4 linked regions of the Homo sapiens genome follow. The protein of the gene in region 3 interacts with the protein of the main gene of each other region in a pairwise test. Each region holds a gene or a part of one and is shown on either strand. Other genes may lie near its edges.

Evidence for each region.
Region 1: the proteins of CCDC146 (region 3) and KRT38 interact in binary tests that used the Homo sapiens proteins (3 or more experiments, as listed by UniProt).
Region 2: the proteins of CCDC146 (region 3) and TRIML2 interact in binary tests that used the Homo sapiens proteins (3 or more experiments, as listed by UniProt).
Region 4: the proteins of CCDC146 (region 3) and GRAMD4 interact in binary tests that used the Homo sapiens proteins (3 or more experiments, as listed by UniProt).

What each region holds. Positions count from the first base shown.
Region 1 is NC_000017.11:41,437,984-41,445,130, forward strand, and holds the start of KRT38 (keratin, type I cuticular Ha8), read right to left. Parts: upstream 3,001-7,147; 5' UTR 2,939-3,000; coding exon 2,447-2,938; intron 2,261-2,446; coding exon 2,178-2,260; intron 1,377-2,177; coding exon 1,220-1,376; intron 876-1,219; coding exon 714-875; intron 634-713; coding exon 508-633; intron 331-507; coding exon 110-330; intron 1-109.
Region 2 is NC_000004.12:188,106,600-188,114,594, forward strand, and holds the start of TRIML2 (probable E3 ubiquitin-protein ligase TRIML2), read right to left. Parts: upstream 3,005-7,995; 5' UTR 2,644-3,004; intron 1-2,643.
Region 3 is NC_000007.14:77,117,803-77,125,620, forward strand, and holds the start of CCDC146 (coiled-coil domain-containing protein 146), read left to right. Parts: upstream 1-4,812; 5' UTR 4,813-4,930; intron 4,931-7,818. UniProt on the Homo sapiens protein: Essential for sperm flagellum biogenesis and male fertility.
Region 4 is NC_000022.11:46,672,369-46,679,388, reverse strand, and holds part of GRAMD4 (GRAM domain-containing protein 4), read right to left. Parts: intron 6,547-7,020; coding exon 6,392-6,546; intron 6,014-6,391; coding exon of another isoform or gene 5,891-6,013; exon of another isoform or gene 5,743-5,890; intron 5,720-5,742; coding exon 5,575-5,719; intron 4,733-5,574; coding exon 4,639-4,732; intron 3,922-4,638; coding exon 3,837-3,921; intron 2,790-3,836; coding exon 2,721-2,789; intron 2,243-2,720; coding exon 2,138-2,242; 3' UTR 1,814-2,137; coding exon of another isoform or gene 1,712-1,813; 3' UTR 1-1,711. UniProt on the Homo sapiens protein: Plays a role as a mediator of E2F1-induced apoptosis in the absence of p53/TP53. Plays a role as a mediator of E2F1-induced apoptosis in the absence of p53/TP53. Inhibits TLR9 response to nucelic acids and regulates TLR9-mediated innate immune response.

The sequences.
Region 1 (7,147 bases), on a different chromosome or scaffold from region 3:
GAGTGCACAGAGAGCCTCATTCTACATAGAGACAGCCCTTCTGCTGCCCTGAGGACCTCATCAGAATTGAGTAAATAATTTGGCCAGGAATTGCCCAGATCACACGTACTTGCAGTCCTCGCTTTCCAGAAGGTTCCGGTACGTGGCAATCTCATTCTCCAGCCGGGTCTTCACGTCCAGCAGCACCTGGTACTCCTGGTTTTGCCGCTCCAGGTCGGCCCGGATCTCAGACAGCTGCTCCTCCACGTTGCTGATGAGGCTCTGCATCTGGGCCAGCTCCGTGCCGAAGCGGTCCTCGGCTTCACACAGGGAGTTCTGCAGACAGTCCTTCTGTAGTGGGAAATAAGGGGATAAAATATACAAGGCCCCAAGGGAAACTGCTACATGCCTCAAATTTTGATGGTGATAACAGGTGGGAGAAACTTGGGTAGTGAGACCTCCAAAATAAAATGCTACTAGGCCATGGCACGGGGCATTTGCAGTGCAGTGAGAGTGAAGGACACGTACCAAGGTGTGCTGGGCTTGGCGCTCCACCTCCAGGGCATTCACCGTGCATCTCAGCTCCAGGATCTCCGACTGGCAGCACTGCAGCTCCTCGGAGCAGGACATGTCCTGCAGGCTGATGCCTTCAGACTGGAGCACAGAGAGACACGGTCACCTCCCTGCCCAGATGGAGGCCAGGTACCCCCTGGTTCTATACCCCCCCCACTCACCTGGGCTTGGAACCACTGTTCCACATCCTGGCGGTTGGTCTCCAACATGGCCTCATACTGAGCCCGCATCTCCCCCAGCACCCTGTTCAGGTCAATGGTGGGCTCAATGTCCAGCTCAATCCGGAGCTTCTCCCCCAGCTGACTCCTCAGAATCTTTACTTCCTGCAGAAGGGAGGAAGGGACAGACAGCCTGCATGAGGAAAGGGCCTTTGATGGAGCAGACAGCACCAGGACCCCGCCCCTGGCAAGCAGTAGGAGGGGAGTCCCACACACAAGCAAATGGGAAAGTCTTGCCCAGAGGGCATTCGGGAGAGCCCACCTGCACACCTTCCTCATGCCCAAGGCAAGTCTGCACTTTCCACAGAGGCCCTCTGGACCCTCAGACCCACCTCAGCCCTGCATCCTGATGCCAGCTGAGGCCAGGCAATGCTCTGAGAGCCCGGGGCTGGGGAGCTCCCCTGTCTGCCCAGTGCCCTCCCCAGGAGTTTGAGCGCCCAGGGCCACACCTGCTCGTGGTTGCTCTTGAGGGAGAGCTGCTCCTCCTTCAGGGACTCCTGCTGGGCCTCCAGGTCGGCCTTGGCCAGGGTCGCATCATCCAGGAGCTTCTGTGTCCCACACTTGTCTGCCTCCACCAGCTGGCGCAGGGAGCGCTCACTCTCCAGCCTTTCATCACAGGAGGTACAGGGTCAAAAAGAATGCCCCCAAGAGCCCCTCTCGGCTGCCCTGGCTTCCTACCTCCCACACCACCTTGGATCCTCATTTATTCACTCTGTTTAGCCCTCTGTCCTCAAAGGTGAATTAGACCCAGCCCCTCTTCTCAAAGAGCTCATGGTCTAATGGAGAAATCACAACACTACATTGCACAATATACATTTTTGCCATTGTATTCTGTGGCAACTGCAGTTCAGGAAGATCAACTGACTTGCGTAAGATCATGCATCTTGGGACCCAGTCCAACGCTCATGCCATTGCAGGGGCTGTCAGTTACCAAAGATAAGCAATAACCAGGTGCCTGATCGTGATCTGCGGCTCCTTATCCCTTGCTTTCAGCTGTCTTCCCCTCTCTCATTTTTGCCTAGGTACCTTATACCTGGTACCTTAGGGCTCCCTAATTAAATCTGGACAAAGACTCATCTGTAAGTGACTCCTCTGACTTATATATGAAACCCAATGGCTGTCTTGCTCAGTTCATCCTTCAAATCACCTCATTTTGCTCCTGGTTAATGAACTCAGGCTGCCTTATCCTCCATTTTAGGGAAATAAATGAAGGAAGACAAACATATATGCTTGGATTAATGAGGAGTTTTCCCTTCCATCTTCCATCAGCTTCGATTGTAATGAAAATTTTACTGTAGAGAATCTAGCAAGGAAGAAATGACAATGATTCCCTCACTCAACAAGTATTTGGGCATTGGGATGGAGGGTGGGGAAGGAGTCACCCTGGCCCTCCTCCGCCTGACTTACTTGATCCTAAAGTCATCGGCAGCCAGCTTGGCATTGTCAATTTGTACAATCAGCCTGGCATTCTCGGCCTTGCTGCACAGGATCTGAGGAGAACAGGAAGACAGTTCACACACAAAGCATCATGCCCTAGGCTCCTTCTCCACGTGTGGTGTCTATGATCATGTCCAAGAGAAACCAAGAACCCAAAGTTCTCTGAGCTTTACATGGATTCCTCCTGTCTTGCCTCTGCCATCTCAGACCCAGCACACCCAAGCGATCCCACACCTCACCTTCTGTTGGAGCTCCTCGATGGTGTGGAAGTAAGACTGGTAGTCGGGGCACACGGTGGACTCGTGGCACTTGCTCCTCTCGAGGAGTGTGGCCTCCAGCTCCGCATTCTCCTGCTCCAGCTGGCGCACCTTCTCCAGGTAGTTGGCCAGGCGGTCATTCAGGAACTGCATGGTCTCCTTCTCATGGCCATTCAGGGTGTTTTCACCATAGGCCCCACAGATTCCAATGTTGCCAGGAATGTGGCAGGTCCCTGGCAAGGGACAAGCAGTGTGGCAGGTAGGCGGCAGACAGAGGCTGGGGCGGCCCAGGGGAGTGGACCCCACACGGACTCGGTTGGCATGTGCCACGTTGGCCAAAAGGCACATGGGGGCAATGTTGGCCTCTGCCCCAGGCTGGCACCCAATGTCGATGGGAGAGACAGAGACATTTCTTGCTCCAGGAGCCATGGTGCAACCCAGAGGGCATGAGGAGCTGCTGTAGGAAGAGGTCATGGTGTTGGGCTGAGGCTGCACAGGAGCTTCAGATCAGCTGGGAAAGCTGAACCACTGAGACTGAAGCCTCCTCTCCTCCCAGCCCTTTTATACCCCATCCTGGGCGGGTGTTGGCTCCAATGCTTTGACCTCCTGCCTTGATTATCTACCTGTTGTGGTGCCATCATCCTGTTACTCAGCTGCTGAGTTTACCATGAAAAGTTTCTCAGCTCGTTAAAGGAATGTTGACGAATCTGAGGCCTCTTGGCTCTTTGAAATCAGGTTGGCTGTTGATGGGAGGTCAGAAGCTTTTTATTATCTTTCAAAGAAGCAAAGTTATAGCCATCAGATGCTTAGACCTTGACTGGGTTTGGCCTCTTTATGGATGTGTCCACTCTGGAGACACAAACTTTCCTGTTGGTCAGTGGTGTAGCAGGAGGACTAACCCCGGTGATGACAATGGTTCTCACTTGGGTTAAGACTCAACCAGCCTTCCCTATCCAGGGAAGAAACTGAGTCTTGGAATTGGTGGATGTTATGGCCTTGGGTTATCAAGAAGTCCTACATTTCTTCTTTCTTTAGTTGGTTGCCTTTCAGACTCACTTTGAGGAGCAACAAGACTTAGATGAATCCAGTCACTCAAAACACATCCCCTGGCTACGTCCCATATGCTACGCACCTTGCTGATGCTTGATATATAGTTGGTTAAGCACAAAATAGTTCCTGCCATTGGGGAACAACTGTAACTTGGGTAGACGTGATGTTTCAAACAAGGTATCTGAGAAGCTCATGAAAATGAGGATGACTCCAAAAACCATGGCTTATCTCGACCAAGAAGGGCAAGCTCAAGAAGCCAGAAATAAACAAAGAGAAATGAGCAATAATCTTACTGAACCTCAAATAAGAACTTGGTCATGAAAGTCAAAGGACATTGAGTGATCAGAGCCTCTGTGGGCTCTCTTCATACCTTGCTTCCTTTATTCTAAAGTCAGTCATGAGCCTTCACCCTATGAGCTAGGGGATTGAGCAATGATACCTTTTAATCTTTACTTCCAACCTGGGAGGTGGGTACTCTTAATTTTACAAAATAAATAAACAAGCCATTGAGGACAGTTTTCTAAGATCAACCTCACTATAAAGTATAAAGCCTATTCTCAACATCAGCTTCTTTCAACTCCAGAAACTGTTTCTTCACCTTGACCACCTCCAAATCCTCCACCCCAAGGATAACTACTGTGTCATTGCTAGAACTAAGAAGGATTCAAATTCCTAGAAACCGGGCAAGAAGTTGAAATTAAGATGTAAAACAAAAATCTGACATTGTGTATTTTTCCCTTTGTATCTCAGAAAATACAGATGTGGAGGTATTCATACAATAAAACAGAGTTTCTCCAAGGGCTAAATCAGAAGATGCCAGGGGAAAGTCCTGTCCCTAAAATGGTTATATTACACATTCCACATTCAGATAGTTCTTGGTACTAGGGATCCAAGACACATGGCTGCTGAGATCCCAAAACTTTTCTCCCAAAATTTGTGACAGAAGATACATAGACCCCTGAGACTAAGAAAAACCTAATGTGGAACAATCCAAAGTGATTATAACTAGAATTTTGGGAAAATGAGTTTTTGCCAGTCCCCTGAGCATTGAACAAAAGCTGAACATACACCTCTATAGGGATCAGACGTGCATATGTGAAACACAGGCTATTGGAGTTCTATCAAGAAGAAATACAGAATCTGAGAATTCAGTCCAGATTGGGCTTCTCAGGAAAGTAAGTAGTAGTGAGCGCTGACCTAAGGGTTATTCAGAGCTCACCAATCCATAACCCTTTACAGACAACATCATTGGGAGACATCACCAGGGCAGGCTGTCCCATCCTCCAGAGGCCACTGGGTGCAATCTGCATATGTTACATCTTCAAACACCCTTTTGTTACTCTCCTCCGCCTCATCACATAGCAACAAGCTTCTCTATAAATCAGAGAGCCAGGCTTTTAAAGTCATTTCCTTTGATTTGCTAAGTAGCACCCATCTTTTGGCTTTATCCTCTGCCCAGATTCATTCCATGGACTAAAAGCCACGATTTCGTCCATTCACAATACATGACTCATCACTGCTGAAGCCTTGTGTGTCCAGATGACACCCCTCTCTGCCAACTGGCTTGGGTCCTGGCTTGGGCTTCTACCTTGTACTGTTTTGCATAATGATACTGATGTTGCATGGCTCTTTGTAAAATCGCTTTGTTCCCCTGATTTGTATTTTCTCAAAGGAGGTGAAGGAGCGGGTGGGGATCCTAAGACTCTCTTCCTTCCCAACCCTTTAAAAAGAGTCCCTGTGGCCCCTGGTGACCGAATATGAGGCCAGGTTCAGTAACAAGAAGTGATGAATACAGAGTGTGAGAGATGGGAGCCTGCTGCCCTCCTTCATTCACCTGTGTGCACAACATTCTCTGTGTGGATTCTGACTTTAGACATGCCGATCTCTAGAGGCATGAAGTCTACTGCAAATGGAGGTGAGGAGCTGTGGTCTTGGAATGCCATTTTCACTAATTTTGATACATAGGGGCATATCTCAACCAATGGGAGAGAAAGGTATGGAGCTGTAGGCTAGCACCTGGAGATTGTGCCTAACTCAAAGTTTATCTTTTCTGTGTCATGGCTCCTACTGCTGGAAGATGCAGGGAGGCATCTAGGGAGTTGTGCCCTGTGTGGGAACGTCACCCATCACACATTGCAGTGAATGCAAAGATTTATGACAAGTACTATATGTAGAGTTAGTGCTGCCACATCTCCAGGGTGTTAGAAAATGGTGTCCCAAACAATCCTAGATCAAGAAACCATGAAGACTCTTGAGAGAAGAGGCTGAGCATATAAATGTATTATTCTAGGTATCCAACTCCTGAGGCTTTGATGAATGGAAAAGGTACACTTCTGTTCAAATTAAATATGATTTTATCTATATATGAATGTATGCTCATTTGTGATTAAGAAATACAAACTAAAGAGATATTGTTTTCTTATCAGGTTTTGCTAAGTTGGATAATAGCACACAGTGTTGGCATGAGTGTGGGAAACAAGTCCTATCCTCTCCTGTGGATGACAGTCACGAGCTTCCACCTCTGCACATAGGCACAGAAACCGGGGCCCGTGCGTTGGGACCTGTGAGCCTCACACCTGCCTCTGATGGCATCATTTGCTGCTCCAGGCTTCACTGCAATCGACCCACTTGGAGAGTAGCTCAGGAGGCTCACCCTGCCCTGGCAAGCAATAGTGAGGGAAGAGACTCCAGAAGATGAATTAGAAAGAGTTGGAAAATCTTTGAGAAGCAAGACCCTAAGAAGGGAAGAAAATATAGAATTCTGTTTCAACCAGAATAAAAACAGATCTTTGGCACAGGTCAAAGATCCTCATTGTGGAAAATATTGAACTGCTTTCTGTTGCTCATTACAAACCCATGATTATGAAACATGCTGAGTCTGAAACAGCTCAGTGGCCGTTCTCTGTCACAGATAGATTGAGCTGTGTGGGCTCACTCATGCTCTCTGCAAAGCCTTCTCTGGCTTCCCAGGTAGGCTGCTCTCCCTCTGCTGACACACTCTTCTCACCCTGGGAAACTGTGGCTGTATCAGAGGTGGTAGCTCCCCACCATGGACTTGGGATCTCCAGGACATCAGGGAGTTTGTCTCATTGCTTTTTCCTCTTTCATCTCCATATCCCCAGACTCTGGCACAGAGCCCGGCTACAGAGTAGGTTCTGCATCCATGTGTGTTTAATTATGTAAGCAGGTAATGAGAAACACAGTAGCACCAAGCAAAGATATTTGTATGCTGAAACAATGAAGTAAAATCATAGATTCTTAAGCAATGTGGATAAATACACAACCAGAGATATGCCGGCAAATTAGCTCTCTGGGGGGAAAACCCCTCCAGTTTGTAGTGTAAGCCAATTTCTGTGGTGTAAATACTCCCACAATAGCCAACTTCAAGCAAACAATATGATGTCACTGAATGTGGAGTTGGAAAGAGATGTGAAAAATCGGCTCTTGTGAGTTATAAGAGTTAGCTCCAGCGTACCACTTGATCCCACTTTCTAAAACCAAAATCCTGACAGTACATTTCTTACATAGTAATTTTTTTTATAAATCCTACAGAGAAACCAAAGGTAGATCACATTTGATGACACAGGCAAGAGACCTGCCCCTAGAGAAGAGGAAGGCATTATGGCCATGGTG
Region 2 (7,995 bases), on a different chromosome or scaffold from region 3:
GTGACCGGCCAGGAGACGGTCTCCCAGGTCGCGGCTCAGGCAGCGCCACTGGAGGGCTTCGCCCCGGAAGATCTATCGTGCTCCTGGCAGGCGCGTCCCTGCAGGGCGAGGCCACCCTGGACCAGGGCGAAGTGGGAGGCCCCGACTGCCCGGGAGGCCAAGTCCGTGGTTCCCCGGCCCGCGCTGGGAAAGTGACAGGTCAGACTCTTGCTAAGGTGGCCAAGCGAGAAGACAGGCCGGGCTGAGCCGCGGGTGCGGTACCACCGGCGCTTTGTCGACGTTGTGCCCATCTTTGGCAAGAAGAAGGGCCCCAATGTCCTTCTTAAGTCCTTTGTAATTCTGGCTTTCTCTATTAAAAAAGCCACTTAGCTCGAAAACTTTTTTCTCAGAAAAATGTTTTTGTTTTTATTATTTTATTAACTTATTTATTTATTTTTGAGACCGAATCTCTGTCGCCCAGGCTGGAGCACAGTGGCACGATCTCAGCTCACTGCAACCTCCGCCTCCCGGGTTCAACCGACTCTCCTGCCTCAGCCTCCCGAGTAGCTGGGACTACAGGCGCGTGAAACCACACCCAGCTAATTTTTTGTATTTTTAGTAGAGACGGGGTTTCACCGTGTTGGCCACACTGATCTGGAACTCCTGACCTCAGGTTATCTGCCCGCCTCAGCCTCAGTGCTGGGATTACAGGTGTGACCCACCGTGCCTGGCTTGTTTTTATTATTTTAAATGAATAACTATAAAATGCAGTTTTAAATTTCTAATACAGTAAACATAGATATTAACGCTCATAAACAAAAGCTTATTGGGATCTTCGTCAATAATGAGTGCAAAGGAGTACTGATTCCAAAAAGTTGAGAATCTTGGCCTGAAAAGGCATATTCCCCACAAATAGGACTGTGAATGAATGCATCCATAATTTTGATATGTTTTGTCAGTTTCCCAAGCACAAAAGTTGTACAATTTTGCACTCCAAGCAACAAATTAAAAAGATGTTAAACTTTTGGATCATTGCCCACTGGCTGGGTGAGAAATAGTGTATTCATATATTTTCAACTTCCATCTGTTATATTATTAATATGTCTAAGCCTTTTATTTTCATATGCTAAAAAACCATTTTCACTTCTTTTGCTGTGAAGTCTATGTTCAAGCCTCTCTCTCAGTTTATTCCATCAGGTTTGGCCTTTTTGGAGGGAGGGGTCAATTTTAAGAGAGAGCTATAGATCCAAGTTCCTGTAAATTGTGTGAGTTGCAAATACTTTCTCCCTCCTTCCTTGTTTTTGATGCTCTCATCCTTTCTTCTGCTTAGGTCTTTGAAATCCCTGCTGGTTTCCCGTGTCTTAGGTCCCTGAACATGTCCGAGATGACTCCACTGAGTCACCAAAACAAAGAAATTCACCAACTCAAATTTTTCCTTGAGCTCTCAGCAGCAGTTAACATAGCTGACCACACCCTTCTTCCTAGAATGTTTTCTTCTCTCATCTGTCTGCAGCTGACATTCCTCTAACTTGTCTGGTCTTGTTCTCCGTGGCCTTTTCTGGTCCCACATCCTCTGAACCTCTCAATCTTGGGGTGCTTCAAGGTTGAGTTCTGGTCTCCCAGTCCTGGTCTCTCCCTAGGTAATCTTACTCGTTTCTGAAGATTTAAGTTCCATTCTCCGATTTCAATCTCCTGCCCAATTCCCAACATTTTTGCAATAGAATGTCTAAGGAGCACTCAAAATTAACATATCTAAAGCCGCTCAGGATCTCAACCCAGTGGCTCTCTTCCCCCAAACTCATTCCTTTAGAGCCACAGTTTAAGCCTTCCTTTCACCAATTCAACTATTGTTTTCCAAATTTATATTCTGTCCTGCCCTCCTCGTCCATCTCCAGCTCCTCTCTGCTCAACCACCAGAATACTATTTTAAAACCAAAACCAAGTGAGCAGGTTTGTGGTCACTTTCTATGGCATTAGAGTAAGATCGAAGTGGGTAATAACCCCGTCCTATACAATCTGGCCTCCTGCCTTCTTCTGATCTCTCTATAGCTTTCCCCCATCACTGTCAATCTAGCTGCCTCTAATTCATCACAGCCCTTCCCCCTTCCGTGGCCAACAGAGCTCTTCTCTCATATTTTTGCAATTCCAGCTGCCTCTTCTTTCTTCTCTTCAGTTCTCAGCTCAAATGTCTTCCCAAGAGAGACCTTTCCATCACTACTCAATTTGAAATACCTTCCCACTACTCATCTCCTTATTTTATTTTCTTAGTAGCGAAAAGATTTTATCTTTCTATGAACAAGTTTACTTGTGGGTCACTCTCCATCCATAAGAAACTAAGTCCTTGAGATGCCCTGTGTCTACATCTGACATACTCGATGCACAATAAATATTGTAAACGATATTTTATGTTAAACCAGTAAAAATTGAAGGTGTAATGAGAGAGGGACAGAGACTAAATATTTTTACAGAAACAGCAAAGGAAAATTGACGAATTAAGTCCCCAGCATGTTGTCTACCCTTATTTTGTTTTTCCTAATATTTTTCTTCAGGCTTTTTCCTGATAACACACAGATACACACACACACACATAGATTCTAAGATCAAGTTTAGAAATCTAAAGAAACAATTATTAAGAAAATGATCTATAGAGAAAATCTCACTTACTTTCTTTGTAGCAATCCTGGGTATTTCCTTTTTTTTTTTTTTTTTTTTTTTTGAGACAGGGTCTTGCTCTGTCACCCAGGCTGGAATGCAGTGGCGCAATCTCGGCTCACTACAGCCTCGAGCTCCCAGGCTCAAGTGATTCTCCCACCTTGACCTCCTGAGTAGCTGGGATTACAGGCGCTGCACGACCACACCCGGCTAATTTTTGTATTTTTTGTAGAGACGGGGTTTCAGTATTTTTCCCAGGCTGGTCTTGAACTCCTGGGCTCAAGCAATCTGCCTGCTTCAGCCTCCCAAAGTACTGGGATTACAGGAATGAGTCACCACACCGAACCAAGGTATTTCCTTTAGGGAAAAAGCTGGAACAGTGGAGACTGAAGAGATTTTATCTGTTCAATTCCTCCCTCAGCCCCGCCCTCACACCATCAGGAAGGCGTCTGTGAAGTTTCTTATCATATTCACACAATTAATCTCATTAGAACCACCTGAGTTTATTAAAACGCAAGCCTCTTCACAGGGTCTCTGATTCCAGAAATCTACGGTGGGGTCCGTAATTTACATTTTTAATGGACTCCCAGAAAATGCTTAATAGCCCTGACCTTGGTTGGATAAATATCTTGTTTTATCTCCAGTGCCATGTACAGTGCCTAACACCTCTAGCTCCTTAAGGTTTGGGGTTTTCTTTCTTAATGAATCTAGTGTATATTGACAATTTCACAGGAAAGAAGCCTTCGAGCTAACACTCAAGACTGTGTTTGTTCCTTAGTAGAAAATAATGCCTGACTTGTTAGTTTCTAGAACGTTTGCTGGAGAAGTGTTCATTCCAGTATCTGTGGAAAGAAAAACCAAGAGTAGGGATAACTGCCTATGGAATCTGTCACAGATGGGAGGTCAGGGAACAATCCCAGATAATTCATACTTGATATTTGGCTTCAGTGAGGAGGAACTCTTCACAGCTTTCTAAGTTTTATAGTTTTGTCCCCGAGGGTTTTTATTGCATCAGTCAGTCAATCCCCTGCTAATCAAACCAGGGAGTTTTTTTCTTTATGCTGCTGACAGGATAATGAGAATTCTTCTGCTTTGCTTATCTGATCTTTCAGAACCTGGTTCTACCTTATGGAATCTCAATACACCGTTTCTCTTTTTCTTTTTTCTTTCTTTTTTTTTTTTTTTAGATGAGAGTCTCACTCTGTTGCCTAGGCTGGAGTGCGGTGGAGCGATCTCGGCTCACTGCAGCCTCCGCCTCCCAGGTTCAAGCAATTTTCCCACTTCAGCCTCCCGAGTAGCTGGGATTATAGGCGCCCACCACACCCAGCTAATTTTTGTATTTTTAGTGGAGATGGGGTTTCACCATGTTGGCCAGGCTGGTCTCAAACTCCTGACCTCAGGTGACCCACCCTCCTTGGCCTCCAAAAGTTCTGGCCACCGCGCCTGGCCATACACCCTTTCTCTTATCTCAGATGATTACCTACACCCACTCTCTTTTCCAAAACCCAATTCCCCAGCTTTCTTCAAATAGACCACATTTATTCCTGTGCCCCCTCCCCTCCTCAGCCAGTCCATCCTCCTTTACTTCTCTTATTTTTCTAATCCAATCTTCCTTTCTCTTCTAAGCCTGGGTACGGCCAACGTCTGTGAAGATACTCACACATACTTGTTGTCAGATACTCTGTCATTTACTCTCACCATCCCTTGAGCTTTCATAACTCTTGAGCTTACTCATCTTGACAAGAAAACTTTGTAATCTTTGAATCAAATGGAAAATAAACATCAAGCATATTGTCAGGTTTTGAAGTCTCTTAAAGCCTGTTTTAGAGTATTAAATGCTTAAATAAATACTTATTAAAGCCTGTTTTACTATTAAATAAATATTTATTAATAATTAAATTATTAATTCTAGAAGAGTCAATATTTTAAGATAATTCTAAAAACATTACAAAAAAGTGTGCTAAACCCTTATTTACTGTTACATGCCCCACCTGTTGCATGCTCCAACCCCGTGAGGTACATCTGCAGCTGATGAAGTAGATGACGTAGAGATTAAGTCACGGGATTAAGTAATTGACCAAGAGCACTGGGTGCAGAAAATTGAAGATATGGAATTTGAATCGGGTGCCAAATTTCATGATATTTCCTTATTATAATTATTTGTCCTTATTAAATATTAATCAAATGGCTTGACAATTTACAAAAAAGATGCCTCAAATTTGTATGACAATTTATCACGAGATGCTTTCATAGGGCTAGAGTAATCACATTACAAGGAACACAGATCATTTTAAGGTAGTTAGATTTTTCATAGGAAAACTTTTCATTAAAATGAAAATCCTGAAGAAATGTAGTTTTTTTTCACTGTCAAAGAACAAATACAATTATGAATGAGTGAGTCATTGTTCTCCTGAGTCATTTCATGAACTTATAACAGTCGTATCCCAGCCGGGCACTCTGGCTCATGCCTGTATCCCCAGCACTTTGGGTGACCGAGGCGGGTGGATCACTTGAGGTCAGGAGTTCGAGACCAGCCTGGCCAACATGGGAAACCTCATCTCTACTAAAAATACAAAAATTAGCCGGAAATTGCTTGAACCCAGGAGGCGGAAGCTGTAGTGAGCCAAGATCGTGCCACTGCACTCCAGCCTGGGCAACAGAGCAAGACTCGGTCTCAAAAAACCAGGACAAAACAAAAACAGTCCTGTCCCCTTTGTTAGCCACATCACCTTCACCACTCGCCCCAGGCTGGCATACTCTCGGCTTCTGGGTGGGATGAGTATGGCTGGTGCCAAACAAGGCTGTATTTGTTACTTTGGACCAAATCTGCGGCAGGAGACTACCACCTCCTCCCATTCCAGAAAAGAACAGCTGGAGGCGGGGGTGTGCTGGTTGTGGTCCCAGTGTTATCACTCATCTGGAAGGTGTGGCTTCTCTCTGGCTCCTTTTCTCCAAGGCTGCTCCATTAGAAGCAGGGGCTTGGCTCTCACTGGTTTACTTCCCACAGCTCTAAGAGGTCCAGAAGTCATGTTCAACTGCTTCTTCCTTGCTTAAGAAAGCATTAAAACTTAAGAATCAGGCCAGGCGCAGTGGCTCACGCCTGTAATCCCAGCACTTTGAGAAGCCGAGGCAGGCGGATCACCTGAGTTCCGGAGTTCGAGACCAGCCTGATCAACATGGAGAAACCCCGTCTCTACTAAAAATACAAAATTAGCCGGGCGTGGGCGCATGCCCAGCTACTCAGGAGGCTGAGGCAGGAGAATCACTTGAACCCAGGAGGTGGAGGTTGCAGTGAGCCGAGATCGCGCCACTGCACTCCAGCCTGGGCAACAAGAGCAAAGCTCTGTCTCAAAAAAAAAAAAAAAAAATTAAGAGTCAAACATTATGGGGGCCGGGCACTGTGGCTCATGCCTGTAATCCCAGCACTTTGGGAGGCCGAGGCAGTTGGATCACAAGGTCAAGAGATCAAGACCATCCTGGCCAACATGGTGAAACCTTGTCTCTACTAAAAATATAAAAATTAGCTGGGCATGGTGGCGGGCACCTGTAATCCCAGCTACTTGGGAGGCTGAGGCAGGAGAATCGTTTGAACCCGGTAGGCAGAGGTTGCAGTGAGCCGAGATCACAGCCACTGCACTCCAGCCTGGGCGACAGAGCAAGACTCTGTTTCAAAAAAAAAAAAAAAAAAGAATCAAACATTATGGTCGACCTCATGATAGCACAGTTACCCATTTGTTGTTGTAAGTCAGTGCATGCTTATCTGAACCCAACATGTTCAGTTTGCTTGCACTCTTTTGTAAGGAAGATAATCCTCCTAACAATTCCAGCAGAATTAAGAGGTCACCTTCACCTCACCTATTACAACACCGGGACAAGCCCTATCGGTTTTCACCAGACAGAATACCCTCAGCAAAAGGAACGGGCTGGTTTAACTGAAATCAGTGAATCCTGAGCAAATAAACTTCGGATTTTTGCCAAAGTTCACAGGCTGAGGAAAGCATCATGTCTCATGGATGAAGTTAGACTGACGTGGGCTCTGATTCCAGCTTGGCCACACACTTGTCATGACCTGCAGCAAGCCACTGAACGCTGAGCATCACTTGCACCATGAGTCACCGTCACCATCTTCCACAAGTCTCTGAGCATTAGGAGAGGTTCGATGAAATACACGTAGGAGCGAGGAGGGTGGTAATGAGAACAGAAATTGCTCTCTGAATGAGTATGCTTCCTCTCCTCACCCAGAGTCATTCTTTTCAGCAAAGTCAAGAGCACGGCCCTCTACATAAGGGAGAGTGCAGCCGGGAAGGTGATGGAGGTGGTAGAGATGAATTATTGGCATATGGGAAATAAAGAGATCTTTGATGCCCTTTTCAGTTTCTTTTGTTTAATAATATATATATTAGTAATGTAGTAATTGCGTAATTGATATCAAGGCATATATTCAGCTTTTATTAATGTAATGTTTATCTGAAAACTTTTAGGCCACTGGTATAATTTTTTTTTTTTTGATACTGAGTCTTGCTCTGTCACTCAGGTTGGAGTGCAGTGGCACGATCTCAGCTCACTGCAACCTCCGCCTCCTGGGTTCAAGTGATTCTCCCACCTCAGCCTCCCGAGTAGCTGAGACTACAGGTGTGTGCCACCATGCCCAGCTAATTTTTGTATTTTTAATAGAGACAGGGTTTCACCATATTGGCTAGGATTGTCTCGATCTCCTGACCTCGTGATCGACCCACCTTGTCCTCCCAAGGTGCTGGGATTACAGGTGTGAGCCACCGTGCCCGGCCACTGGTATAAATTTTTAGGAAGAATTTTTTTCTGTTCCATTATAGTCAGTTTCAACAATAAAGCCTCATTGTCAAGATATTAAAATCGCTGGGCATGGTGGCGCCCACCTGTAGTTCCAGCTACTTGGGAGGCTAAGGTGGGAGGATCTCAAGCCAGAGAGGTCGAGGCTGCAGTGAGCTATGATTGTGCCCCTGCACTCCAGCCTGGGTGACAGAGTGATACCCTGTCCCTAAAATAAATAAGTAATAAAAATGTAACAAGATACTAAAATCTACATGCTGCTCACTATCATTGGAGGATATGCATCTTTACACCCTCCTGAAAGAAGGAGTCAAAAAGCCTCCTCCACACTTTAAAGTTATGTGATAATCTGGATACCCTTCAGGACCTGGACCTGTTTAAAAAGACTGGCATCAAATGTTGTAAGGGATTGGATCTCAGAGAAAAAAGCAGCTTTATAAATAAACTTGACCAGAAGTTATTATGCCGGCAATATTCGTTCAAACAGAAAATCTGGCCAGGCATGGTGGCTCATACCTGTAATTCCAGCACTTTGGGAGGCCAAGGTGGGCAGAT
Region 3 (7,818 bases):
AAAGATGGTGCTAAATATCCTATACTGCACAAGACAGGCCCCCACAACAAATCACCTGACTGAAAAGGTTTGTATTGCCAAGGCTAAGAAACCATTTTTAATTTTATGCCTACAATGGCATAAAAGAAGAAAATCAACAGAGAAAGATCTTTCAGAACTATCAGATTAATCAAAACATAAATGCAGAGACAGCAGTATACTAGATTCTAATTTTGATTGTGAAATTGGAAATCTCAAACTCTTGAGTCTTCAGAGGACAAGTCTAGATTAGTTTTCTGAAACTTAAGTATCAATGACTGAACAAAATATTTCTAAGGACAAAAAAGAATTATGATATCCTCACCTAGTCATTCAACATGAAGACCTTATTATACAATCTTTTACAACAAGAATCTGAACCAACTTATTTTGCTAGAAGGACTTGTGATGGTAATGTTAATCTTTTATGATATTTGTGCCAAAAATTTATTTGAAATGATTCATATGTGGACACATGCTGATGGCAGATACGCAAATAAAGGTGGATGAAAGAAAAAATATGTAAAAATTAAAAATGCATCAAATTATTCTAACTAGTGTTTAGAAATCTAAAAATGAAAATATTTTGCAATTATGAAGCAAAGATGACTGACTTCAACAAAATTGCATGCTTTCAAAGTTCACAAAAGTATCAAGTTTTGACTATGCAAATGCAAGAAGCACTAAGAGTAACGATAAGCTAGCACCTATCAGAGAGGTATTTCAAACTATTTACAGCTAACACCAGTCTAATCTTTAAAAAATTAAATATAGGTCAGTCATGGTGACTCACACCTGTAATCCCAGCACTTCATGAGCCCAAGGCAGGAGGATCACTTGAGCCCATGAGTTCAAGACCAGCCTGGCGCAATACAGTGAGACCCTGTCTCTACAAAGAAAACACTAAAAAAAAAAAAAATTAATTACAGCCGGGCGCAGTGGCTCATGCCTGTAATCCTAGCACTTTGGGAGGCCAAGGCAGGCGGATCACGAGGTCAGGAGATCGAGACCAGCCTGGCCAACATGGTGAAACCCTGTCTCTACTAAATATACAAACATTAACTGAGTGTGGTGGTGCATGCCTGTAATCCCAGCTACTTGGGAGGCTGAGGCAGGAGAATTGCTTGTACCAGGGAGTCAGAGGTTGCAGTGAGCTGAGATTGCACCACTGCACTCCAGCCTGGTGACAGAGTAAGACTCCGTCTCAAAAAAAAAAAAAAATTTAATTACAAAACAAGATGAATCATATGTTACTTTGCACAAATAACTACTTAATCCTTAAGTAATGAGCTAGCTACCTGGTACATTAAAAATGTGATTAAAGTCATCTAATATTTAAGCACATTTATAGTGCACAAAGATTCTTCCTTACTCTTTAATAAAATGGAAGAAAATCATTTGTGGAAACTAAAATTTCTTTAGTAAGATTTCAGAATACTAGGAAAATACTATTAGTTTCACTGTACACTTTGAAATTAAATCAAAAAGAAATTTGAGGCAAAACCTCAAAACTGCTATAACCTCTGTACTTTACTAGAACTGATTTCAAGGCAAAATGTTTGCCAAGGACTTTCTGAGAGATGAATAAATGACAATGTTCTGAAAAACAGAAGAATCTCTTGAGTTTGATAGTACGATTCATAGCTTAAGGCTTTTAAAAAAATAATAGTGAAATAAAATTAGAAAAATGCTATACCTTAACAGACTGCAAGATGCTAGTCCCATGCTCTGTTTCAATTTTGCAATTATCACCCTCAATACTTTGAACTTCTACACAGCCAGACCCTGATGACTTGATATCTAAACCTAGAAGTAAAAAAAGAAAAAAGCAAGTTAGTACTGCAGTTTATAAGCTCCAAAGCATTTTAACCTAGAAACCCAACTCCTCAGTTATGTCCATAATATTGCTGAATCCTGGAAAGTGCATACTGTAAAGGTAAGGGGTCTTCTACCACGGCAACGGGACCAAATACAATAGCCTTTCTGCCCGTTTTTAGAAACAGAGCAGTTATTTCTACTGGCCTAAATCACCTAAAGAGAACTAACATAGATGGGAAGTAAAGGAGACTACGATTCTGTTAAGTACTCCTGTGAAAGACTGTAGAAGCCTCTTCCCCAGTATATATGATCATGACTTAGGTTTTCAAATCCTATGTCTAACCTTTCATACTTAAAAAATGAAAATATTACCATGCAACTATATCACAAGGTATTTGAAGTAATTTTTTAAAAATGGGAACAACTTTGAAAAACCTAATATATACTATTAAAACTACAAGATTAGGCCATGAGCCGTGGCTCATGCCTGTAATACCAGCACTTTGGGAGGCCGAGGAAGGAGGATTGCTTGAAGCCCAGGAGTTCAAGACCAGCCTGGACAATGTGGCAAAACTCCCTTTCTACAAAAAAACAAAAACATTAGCCAGGCATGGTAGCATGCACCTGTAGTCCCAGCTACTCAGGAGGCGGAGGCGAGAAGATTGCTTAAAACCGTGAAGTCAAGACTGCAGTGGGCCATGATTGTGCACCTGTACTCCAGCCTGCATGGCAGAGTGAGTGAGATGCAGTCTCAAAAAAAACCAAAACAAACAAACAAAAAACCCCACAAGATTGTGGACAAATGGCAGTGGTACATGAAGCAAGTTTGGAAAATAAGGAATTACAAATGCCATCCTTGGCTGTCTATTTAAGATGTAACTGCAGGCATCGCTGTATACAAATTTTAAAAATTAAAAACGCTGATATTTAATTTGGAATTAACATAAATATTGATGATTTCTCTTAAAGTAGGCAAGACCCGCCCCCCCGACTTGATTCCTGAAACCACAAATAGTACCAAATCCTATATATTCTATGTTTTTTCCTGTATACATATCAATGATCAAGTTTAATTTATAAACTAGGCATAGTAAGAGATGAACAACAATAATAATAAATACAGCAATTATAACAATATACTGTAATAAAAGTTATATTACTGTGATCTGTCAAAATATCTTAATATTTTCCTACAACAGTTGAGGCAGGTAACAAACTCAGACAGCCAAACGGTGGATAAGGGAGGACTACGGCATCTACTATTTGGGCAACTGTAAGCATTATAAAAGATGATCTTAAAAATGCTAAATGCTATTATTATTACCATCATCATCATCATCAATATCTTCCTTCAGTCCCAGGAAGAATGACAGTCTGGGGAGCCCTTCCTAGAAAAGTGTGTGTACACAGTGGCTTGCCATTTAGGAAAACCTAAGAAAGGTATCTTGCAGGCATTATTATTGAAGCTTCCTAGGCAGGCTTACCATGTGTTTTTCTTCAAAGCTTGCTACTCATGGAAAACTTAGGCCAAAAAGAATGGAAACATAACAGTAAGAAGCTGGGCGCCCGTCTAAAACCAAATACTCAAACCAGGTGGTACCTGGAACATCCTATTGACAGGGCTGTTTTGGGACACACCCCCAGGCTGTGAGCAAGGGGAAATGTAGATGGACTGCCATACCATTGAATGAATTGTCAAGAAACTTCAACCTTGAAAAATAAGCCAGTTTGCTAATGACAACGGGATAAAGAAGAACACAAGCGGCTCCAGAAATAGAATTTGACCTGGATTATACCAAATCGTGTTTCCATTCGATGTATAAAATTTCTATAATTGGGAACCTAATTTTTTAAATACTACTCGGATACTCAAGAATAGAACAGAGGAAAAGTTGCATTTCCGAAGGGGCCAACTGTAAATTAGGTTTAGAAAGCCAGGACCAATTAAAAGTGCACGTCGACCAAATTTATTAAGTTCACTGTGCGTTCCCTGGGACCCAAACCCGTTTTCACTTCACTTCACTTGCCAAACTTCAGGGGCGCGTTCACCTCCACGGACGCCTGGGGGTGGATAGTATCAGACACAATGGCCATCTCCTCCAGATCCTCGTCGTACTTCACCTGCAGGCCGTCCAGGCCCCGCACGCCGCCCTCCACGCCGCACACCGCGACCAGCACGCGGTCGCCATCCGGGTAGGTGAGGGGGTCCAGGGGCCTCACGGCCAGGTGGCACGGGAGCCGCGCCCGCAGCCGACCGAACGGGCTCACCTGCAGTGTCCACTCCTTCAGAGTTCGGCGCGCCGGGCCAGGCGGAGGGACCTCAGTCTCCGATCCGGGCCAGCGCTCGCCCCTACCTGAGCTGTACGGCCTGGCTTGGCAAGCCCAGCAAGACCAGCGCCCAGCGCCAGCCCACAGTCGGACCTGACGGAGACAGAGACGGAAGCAGCCAAGCTCCCAACCTGAACAGGGGGCAAGCATGGCGCGCCTCTCTCGCCAGTCCTCAGAACACTTCAGCCACAGGGAGGGTCACTTGCCACGGCCAATCGACTTGGCCACTGTGCCGCCTCAAGTCAAATAGGAGACGTAAGTCAGGGTTTGCTGAAACAAGAGCGAGCCGGTTGGCTTGACTAGGCGATGTAAACATCAGCTGCGTAATCCCCAGGGGCAAGTTGGGATTTGAAAGCTCTGAACTCTGACCTGGACCCCTTGCCTAAGTCCACCCCCTTTCGCTAAGGCCGACGGGATACGTAGTTCTAAAGCGGTGGAAAGTCGCAGAGCTCCGCCTCTTAGAAACCACATATCCCAGGAGGCAATGCGCAGGGGAGCACGGGTAAGAGGGCAGGTGTTAGAATCGCTGGAAAGGCGGGCGCCCTTTGTTTCAAGACCATTGGCTATTGGAGGGGCGGTACATGGGAGGCCACTGGCCAATGGGAAGCACGGAAGGGGGCAACGAGGGTAAAGCTGCATGGTCACCTTGGATACCAAGGACGCGACTTCTTGTTTGGAGAGGGTGGAGCTTTGGAGTGAGACCCAGGAGGCCAAATCCCAAAGAGAAAAATAGGAGCCTAAATAAGGATCAGGACCAAGGGAAGGGGTAAGAAACTGCGCTTTTTAAGTTGACAACTAGGTGCAAACTAGGAGTAACCTATGTGGATGTCAAGATCCAAGCTTCACTAACCTAGTGCGGGCATCTCCAGGGCATGGAGAATGCCTTGGTAAGAGAGTAAAGAGCAAGATTGGTGCTTTTTGAGGGAATTGCCTCTTTGGAAGTGTATTCCCTCCTATATTCCAAATATAGGAATAGAGTACTTGCTCCGTCCTGACCCTAAGTGACCTTACTTTGGGTTTTAATTTGCTCACTTTAAAAATGTAGATGATAATACCTTCCTTGCCTTGCCTCAAAGGGTTTTTGTGAGGATCAAGTAAGAAAATGGATGGGACCGTGGTGCACAGTCTACCAAATTACCGTGTAAAGTACTGTATTTTTATTTCAACGTACTTAACATTGATTCTGAGTTACCAAGAAAATTATGAGAGATCAGAACTTGTTTTGAGAATAGCATTGATCTCTTTGACTACAAATGATCATCAGTTTTAGAGTGAAAAAAAAAAAGACACAAAAAAGAGAGTCACCATGGTGCGGTGGAAAGAGCAGGGACAAGGGTCAGATTATTTTCCTGGCTCTGCCACTGCTTCATCTGTGTCACCTAGACCTGTTTCTTTAGTTTTAAAATGAAGAAAGATGGTTCTAAATGACCCTATAAGGTGTGTGTGTGTGTGTGTGTGTGTGTGTGTGTGTGTGTGTGTGTGTGTGTGTGTTTACCTTTTATAATTCTATGGGCAGTAAAATAATGGGAACAGAAAGATTTATTTTCTTCTTTTTTTCTTCTTTCCTGCCTGGTTTCTCTCTCCCCCTCTGTGCCCCTACTTCCTCCTAAAATGTATTCCCTAAATTATTTAGCCAAGACACCTGCAAACACTAACATTTCATAAAATGCAAGTGCCTTAAAAAATTGAAGCCCTTACCCAAGTACAATGACCAGAATTCTTGGGGCTATCGTGATAGATAGACTGGGCTAAAGTTCTCATGGGTACAAGTCTCAGGTTCTCTGCTAGCCACTACCTTTTTAAAATTTTTAAAAATTCAGTGTTCTCTTAAGTTATCATTGCCTCTTTTCTGTCCTTCTAGTCCTTGCTCCCTCCTTATTCTTCTTTCGGTGAAGACTCACTCATTATAGGTGCTAGCTCAGGTTCAGCAAGGGCCCACTGCAATAGTTCTTTTCTTGTCTTTGTGTTTCATTGGTTATAATTATTCAGAATAATCTTCAAACTATTTTTTATGAAAATTGACAGGTGTAACTTTGAAAAGAAATTTGAAAAAGGCACTGGTTTAAGGAAGTTGAGAATGTACTCAAATTTTCTGTAGAAACACTAGACATTTTTAGATTAAATATTAATTCTTAATAGTTAATTCTGTGTCTATGGTAATTTTTCCGTTTCTGAGACAAACTAAGTTAATGGAATTGGCAACTGAACTATAATTTTCTATGTTGCATAATCATTATTTTACTTTTTCAAACAAAAACCAAATAGAATTGACTGAAAATTTACTTTGCTGATCATACAAGGTTGAAAATGGAGAAAATTATTAATATTAAGATTGGTATAAAATAGTTAAAGTTATAGACACTTAAAAACAGTATAATGAGTATCAAATCTGTCCACATATCAACAATGATTAATAAAAGTTGTATCTTCCATCCATATGACATTATAATTGTCAAACCATGTTCACATGCGTCATCTCACTGTATCCTCACTAATTAGGAGGGAAATTATTCTCCTCACACTATAGATGGGGAAACAGATTCAGAAACATTAAGATTAAGCAATTAGAAGGTCTGGCCCTTTTATCACTCTACCAAAACGTCCATTTTCCTGACACCTTTGAAGAAAAAATGAAATTATTCACCTCATAAGTAGAAAATTATATACAACTTTTTTCTCCTTATTTAGAGTTTGTTTCTAAGATATTTTCACATCTTAGTTTAAAAAAGCTATTTCTGTGGTCATGAACATATACTTCTGGTAGGAGTGTTAAGTTAGCACAAAATTTTTAGAGTTCAATTCAGCAATAAGAATGAAAAGCTTTTTCTATGACTCAGAAATTGTGCTTTTGGGGATGTAAGCATAAAATTAGGGATGCTCAAGGAATTATGTTTTATAGGGTTACTTGTAAGAGAAAATAATTGCATCAATTTAAATGCTCCCTGGCCAGGTGCAGTGGCTCATGCCTGTAATTTCAGCACTTTGGGAGGCTGAGACAGGTGGATCACCTGAGGTCAGGAGTTCAGGACCAGCCTGGCCAACATGGTGAAACTCCATCTCTACTAAAAATTAAAAAAATTAGCTTGGCGTAGTGATGGACACCTGTAATCCCAGCTACTCAGGAGGCTGAGACAGGAGAATCACTTAAACACAGGAGGTAGAGGTTGCAGTGAGCCGAGATCACACCACTGCACTCCAGCCTGGGCGGCAAGAGTGAAACTCTGTCTCAATAAAAAAATGTTAAATGCTCCCAAATAAGACAGTATTACATAAATTAGTATATAGCTGATATATTATGCAACAATTTAAACATATCTTGATATGGGAAATAGTCCATATATAAAGTGAAAAGAATATATACAAAATTGCACGTATAGTATGATCTCAATTGTGTAATAATAATAATAAATTTAACATAAAATTATACTTTACAGAAACAATTCCAGAGGGATATATACCACTTGATAACAGTTGTTATCTTTAAGCAGTGATATGATGAGTGGTTACTGCAATTTTTTGTGTGTTATCAATAGTGAAAATATATTACATTTATAAGAAAACAATTTTAAAGCATTTCTTAGCATATATTGTTTCCTAAAACTGACTCAAATAATCAGATGGGCAGAAGATTTCTTACCATCTAGATATAAATGT
Region 4 (7,020 bases), on a different chromosome or scaffold from region 3:
GACCCCCCGCTCCCCGAATGTGGCCCTCCCTGGGGGCTTCGGCCACACCTGGCACGTGGTCAGTTTTCATCTCCCTTTCTCCACAAAAGGGACTCGAACTAAACCACCCGACGCTGGTAAAGCCCCATCTGCCCCAGGGACCCCTCCCGCTGTGTTTGGGGACTGAATCCCAGCACCTAGGAAGAGGCGCTCATTGGCCCCGAGGCCCCGGACCCATCCTTGGGCACTGCCGGGCCCTGGGGAGAGAGGTGTGGCCATTGTCTGCGGGCACTGCCTCTGCAGCCGCCCCTGGGGGTGGGTCAGTGCCCACCCTGTGTTGCCTCAGGCGCCAAGGTGGGGTTCACTGGGATATGTCCCCCTCCCCTGGTGCACCAAGAGAGCCAGTCCCCTACAGGAGCCAGACCCACGGCTCAGAGCGGGTTCTGTCCCCATTCGGGAAAGGCCGCCGTGTGGTCATCCTGACGCCAACGTCCGCGCAGTCCAGAGCCACGGGGGCTCCGCTCCACCGCCTGGGATAGGACATGTGCTTAATCTGGTGATCGGCGCAGCTCCCCCCAAAGCACCCCCGGCACCAGCGTGTGACTCTGCGGCCCCTCGTGAAGGGGGTGAAACCAGCCCATGCCGCCGGATCCCTCACCCACACCAGCAAATGAGGATCGGAGCAAAGATAAAAATTACATCTGAAAAAGGATACAAAAATAAGAAAACCAGCTTGCTCGCTGTAAAAAATAGAATCTTCTGTTTCTTCAAAAAACAACAATCTCAACGACACCCAAGGGACTCAGGACAAGCTGAGGGAGCTGCGGGATCCGCCCCAGCAGACACGCAGGCCCGCGGGGTGGCCACCTCCTTCCAGGAGGCCCAAGCCGCCTTTCCCTCCCTTCAGCCCAGCGCAGGCGGCCCCAGCAGACCAGGCCTGCGGGCGCTCCCTCCACAAATGCCACCTTGTTCCCGGGAAGCCCAGGCTTCCCTGGGGCAGGGCGGGGGCTGGGGGGGTCTGTGCCCGGACCGGCACCGGCTAGGCACGCGGGGGAGGGAACGCTGTCGCATGTCGGCTGCAGGCAGTGCAGGCCCAGGCCTCTGGGCTCGGCTCACGGTTGCTCCCTAAAGCACAGGGGCTGCCAGAGCCTCTCGGATGGCCCAAAGGCGGCTGCAGCCTGGGCCACCATGGTCCCGGAACACTCCTCCCCACTTCCTCCCCCAACCAACCCAGGCAACCGCAGCCTGGGGGCCATGTGCCAGACATGCCACAGTGCTCGGAGCACCTCCAACAGCCTTCGCGGATGTTCTCCTGGGCCTTCCAAAGAGCAAAGTGTGAGAAAGATGTGCTTTTACCTGCACCATCCTGTGCCCTTACTGGTCCCCAGCTACAGACCTCCTGGCCGGCGTGTCAGGCCGAGAGCAGCAGGCAGGCCCTTACAGACGCGGTGCTGAGCGCCCTGGAGGCCAGCAAGGAAGGTGCCACCAAAGACACTGAGGGCAGGCGAGGGGTGGGCCCTTCTCACCCTCTCTGTTCCCGTGGAGCGAGTGTGGAGCGCAGGCAGGGTCACTGCGCCCGGCCCCAGCCCGGCACCAAGGGCAAATGCCACAGGAGGGTCTCATGTAAGAGGAAGGAGGGCCGCCAGGCCCGTTTCTCGGTGGTTGGTGAAAGGCCCCCATGTCCCTCCTTGACGACATCTTTCTGTCCCCAGGAGGAAGGGCCCCGCACTCTTCAGCTATGGCTTTGGTGGTGGACGAGCTTCTGGCCTCTGGAGAGCGGGACACAAGGTTGCGAGAACCTCTTGGGGTGGCTGGAGAGGTTTCTCTGTCCAGGCTGGAACGGAGAAGGGCAGGGCCAGGGGTCCTGTGTGTCTTCTCCACGGGCCCCCGAGGGCCTCTGCCCCCTCCCCCAGTCTGCGGGTGGCCCTCAGAGGCACCTGACGTGCCCTGTGGGAGAGGGGCACCCCCGTCCCTGTGAGCCCTGGCCCCTTCTTGGTCGATAAAACGCAGAGGTCAACACAATAGAACCACAGGTCCAGGAGAATTATTGCAAAAGCTCATGAGGATGTCCAATTGTTTCCACTACCAAATCGTAAAAAAAAAAAAAGAAAAAGAAAAAGAAAAAGAAAATTCCAGCAACGTCCTGGGCAAGTCAATACTAGCTGTCCCCGCCAGACGCTGCCGCTGAGGTGATCTTGATGTACTGGCTGAGAATGGTCTCGAAGGCCTCATCCCTGTGCACCATGGCACCAAACACGAGCGGCTGGCAGGGAAGAAATGCCACCAGTGAGCATGGCACAGCCAGGCTGGCGCCAGGACCAGGACCGAGACGAAGTCCAACACCAGCCCCAGGCCAGCACGCTAGTCACGTGGGTCTGGGTGCAAAAGACAGGTGTCTCCCCACCACCCGGAGCCAGGCTCCAGCCTTCAGGGGAACAGAGCCAAGAGGCAGAGGGGAGCCAGGCTTTAGCCCCGTGCCTCCCTCCTCCCAAGTCACTGAGTCAGGGGACCCCTGTGCCCAACATCCCTGTCTGTCCGGTGACTCGATGGCCCCAGCAAGATTTCCAACCCAACCTGGACGCAGCCCCAGGCTCTAGCTGCTGCGAGGGAGGGGGCGGCTTTGTGACCCTGCTGCCCAAACTAAAACTCTGGCTGTCTGCCCCACGCTGGTCCCAGGGTTGCTCAGAGTCAGGCCCCTGGGCCCACACCAACCCCTTGGCGGCCCCCCGCCCGGCACCTACTTTCTGGGTGGATGGCGTCGACACGGCAATCCCCATGCCTGAGCCTGGGAGGACAGACAGGACCTTGTACTGAAAGGCAAAGCGTGGCCGTCACCACAGGTCTCTCCTGGGGACAGGGAGGCACAGCCCTCCACAGGCCCAGGGCATCCTCCTCCACTGGGCACACAGGCAGCAGGGCCCACGGGCACCTGGGACTTCCAAACAACAGAAGGTAAGGGCCTGTGGACACCTCCTCACTTTGTGGCCGAGACACCAGACCTGTAAAGGGTCTGTCCCACCCCAGCCCAGACCGTCGGCCAGCTGGCCTGAGGAAGGTCAGAGACAAGCCGGCCTGAGGAGGCTGACGGTAGGCACTCAGCCCCAGAACTCGCTCTCAGGGCCTGGCACCAGGAGGGCCATCTGTCAGCACCGCCAATCCCAAGAGGCAGGCGGAAAGGACCCCAGCCCTGAACTCACCCCTTCTGGTCACCTGACTGCACGCTTTTTTCCAGAGCCGGGTGGGAGAGATGACCCACAACTGCCGTGGGGCCGGGAGTGCCCGCCGTGCCAATGCGGACATGCCCAGGACGCTCGGAGCTGGGAGGGAGCTGGGGGCCCTGACCACTCGGGCCAAGTGTGCCTGCCAGTGCCTCACTGAGCCTTCCCTGCCCCAGAAAACAAGGGACCACAGGCACTTGTGGCCACGCCCACCTGCTCATTCCATGCTACGGTAAAATGCTGAGAAAATGCCCAGAGCGGGCGCGACCATCTGAGCTCCCACCTGAAAACCTGCATCCGAGGCAGGGGCTCAGGGCCCCTGTGCTTTTCTTTATGGGGAGGGTCCCAGATACGAGGGGAACACAGCAGCCAGAGTGGGGCTTGGGTCCTGACCTCCTGGGCTCCAACCCAGCCCCTCCACTTTGAGACACACGGTCCAGGCAAGTGGACCCCAGGGCAGGGGCAGACCCACAGGGACATGGGGACTCAAGTCAAGGAAACGGACCATGGCCGGCCAGCGTGGCCGCGGCGCCCAGATGCTGACAGAGGCTGGCAGAAGTCTATAGGGAAAGCCTCGCCAGCCTCTGTCAGGTGACGAAGAAAACACGGGGGTTAGTGGGGGTGGGTAGGTGCACCAACCTTCTGGATGTCCGTGATGTCCACTAGCTTGATGACTTTGTTCCTCTTTGAGGACCCAGATTTGGAGCTTTCGAAGCACAAGTAACTGGAAGGGGAACGGACAGAGGCGTCGCCTGGCTCTTGAACCAGAGCACGCTCCCACCAGGTGGGGGTCTCCCGGGGCTGCCTCTCAGCCCCCAGTGGGATGGACAGTGGTGCTCCCTTCCCAGCAGACACAGAACCGGTGAAACACTCACGGCCACTGCTCTATATGAGACACTCACGGCCACTGCTCTGTGTGAAACACTCACAGCCACTGCTCTGAGACACTCACGGCCACTGCTCTGAGTGAGACACGGCCACTGCTCTGAGACACTCACGGCCACTGCTCTGAGTGAGACACTCACGGCCACTGCTCTGCATAAGACATTCACAGCCACTGCTCTGAGTGAGACACTCACGGCCACTGCTCTGCATGAGGCACTCAGGGCAACAAGGACTCAGGGCCTCAGCAATAGCAGGTCCCCACACGGTCCCCTCCTTGGGAGACTCTGCCCCTCGTCTCCATGAACTGCTTGGGCCCCAGAGAAGACAGCATCCCCGCCAGCCTGAGGGATGGCAGCAGTACAGCCCAGGCCACGTCCGGCTTGGAGACAACACCTTTTCCCTGGGAGCCCAGACAGCCGGCAAGAGCAGAGCATGGGAGAGGCCATGGCCACCACTCAGGAAAACCTGCACTGGGCCAGCCACGCCATCCCAGGGCCTAGGCAGCCTCCTGCGCCCCCTCCCCTGCAGCCACACAGGGCCCCACGGCTGCACTCACTTCTCCGTGACGTAGAGCACCCCGTTCCTGATGTAGTCCGTGGGCATCTTCCGGTCCCTGTTGATGAGGCAGCAGCGCCAGCCATTCTCGCACACTAATGGGAGAAGGCCCGCCTGTCACACTTTCCACTGGAAGTACCCAGCCTCTGACCTGACGCTGGGACCCAGGAGCCTGACTCTCAGATCCTGACATCCGCCCACCGCGCTCACGTCACACCCACAGTGAGAGGAAGGCGCGCCGGCAAGAGTGAGGTGGCCCCAGAGGGTGGAAAACAGATGTTTCCTCTTCAACAGGCACTGGCAGGGTTTTTAAAGTAAAAGCACCCAGGCAGAGCAGGGAGCAACAGAAGTCACAGTGTGGCCGGGACACCACCTCCAAGACCGGCAGGGTCAGGGCGCTGGGACACCACCTCCACCAAGACCGGCAGGGCCAGGGCTCAGCAGAGGACGAAGCTCCGTTCTCCGCAGCTGCCTCTGCAGCCGCTCATCACACACCTCGAGCTGCCCGGTTTAGTTTAACAGGCCCTCCCTTTGGGAAAGCTGACCTGTCCCCAGGATCCTGAGTCACCTGTCCCCTGGTGGCTCTTGTTTCTCCAGACACGATGGAACCAGGGGCAGACCCCCTGCCAGCGCCCTGCAGGCCCTGAGGCCTCGCCCTGGACTCTCTCCCCAGTGTGTTGCCTGCACGCCTGCTGTCAGGGGAGTGCTGCAGCGTGGGCGGCTCTCCCCACGGGCACGCCCTCCTCCCCTGTAGCCCGCAGAGTCCTCATGACCCCTGGCTCCTGCACTCCTCCTGGGGCAGTGGGATGTGAATGCCATCCTGAGGGCTCCTCTGGCCTGTCACAGGGCGACCCCGTCCTGCATCCACAGCGCCCCCCTCACGGGCCTTCAGTCTGTGTCGGCGCTCGGCCTGGCCTCAGACTCACGGCACACATACCCGCCAGCGGACGCTCGTTTTCTGTCAGATTGAAGATCTCGTGGAAATTGCCCTTCTTGGTGCTGTGGAAGCGACCGGCGTCCTCCTCTTTACCCAGGCCGGCCGGTGCGCTGGGTACGTAGCTCCGTGACGAGGTCGTCTGCAGCTGCCAACGGCAAACAGCGTCGAGGTCAGGCCCGCTGCCCACGCCTGCAGCACCCAGATGTGCTGGCCGCACACACACCTCCCCAAAAGCTGGGATCCAAATTTGGGAAGACGTTCCCGAGGTCCCTTCCGGCCCAGAGCGGCTCCTTCTTCCAGGCAGGGCCACCTCACCTCAGTGGGGAGAGCCCAGCAACCCTCCTGACTCATCTGAGCCACCCCGAAGGGAGCACCGAGGCCTGCTCATTCCCCGTGGTCCTGGCTGGGATGCTGTGCTGCACATCTGGAGGGCCTGTGACTGTGAATGAAATATGGCCCAGTGCCAGGCTGTGGCTCCAAGGGGGCCCTTCTCAAACTGCCTGGTCTCAGCGCCAGAGCCTCACTGTCAGGGATGGCAGGGGCCGGGCACCCCCATGGAGTGGTCACTCCCAGGCCTGCTGGCTCTCAGTCATCATGGCCAGTCCCCAGGTGTTGCCCTGGGCTTGGGAGGGGCTGGATGAGCCTCAGAAACCGCAGTGGTAACAGGGAAAAAAAAAACCCTCAAGTTTAAGGAGTCTATAAAATTGAAGAAACAGCCTCTAAATGAGCCGGAGGTGAACAGAGCACTGTGGGCCTGGGGATGCCCGGCTTCGTGGCCCCCCATCCCCCCATCCCCGCAGCTGGGGGCCGGGCTCACCCTGCGTGAGACTGCGGCGCTGGAGCGCTCCTTGAGCTGCGGGTCGGTGGGGAGACTCCTCCAGATGATATAGGGCGTGTCGTACTTGGCGCGCAGCCTCGGGCAGCGTTTAAAGATGAAATCAATGAGGAAGAACTTGATACCAGCATAGAGTCCTGAGGGCAGGGGACACAGCCTGCTCCATCTAGAGCTCTGCAGCTATGCCAGTCTACTCAGGGTGATGGTTCCGGCACCTCCCACCTCCCAGATTGGCACCCTCCACCCTGAGCCTGGATGTGAGAGTCCAGCTGCTCGCTCAGTCCTCACCCTGGATACCCCCAGCCTCGCTCCCCTGGGGCCCATTCGTGCTGCACAGTCTCAACCCCAGGCGAGGGCCCCACTGCCAGCGCCCCACCCACTCCCACTAAGACCCCTCAGCTCTGCTAGGACCCCCCCATCCAATGCCCCTCACTTCTCTCTCCAACTCCGCCTGGCTCAGGGCTGTTCTTGACCCACCTGAAACACTTCAGGACTGTGCCTCCTCTGCCCCAATTCCCCACACCTGACACCAAATCTGAGGTCCCTCCATGGCAATCCCTCCCCAAACCCCCTCCCACCTGCCCTTCTTCAACTGGGTGCCCCCCCACGCC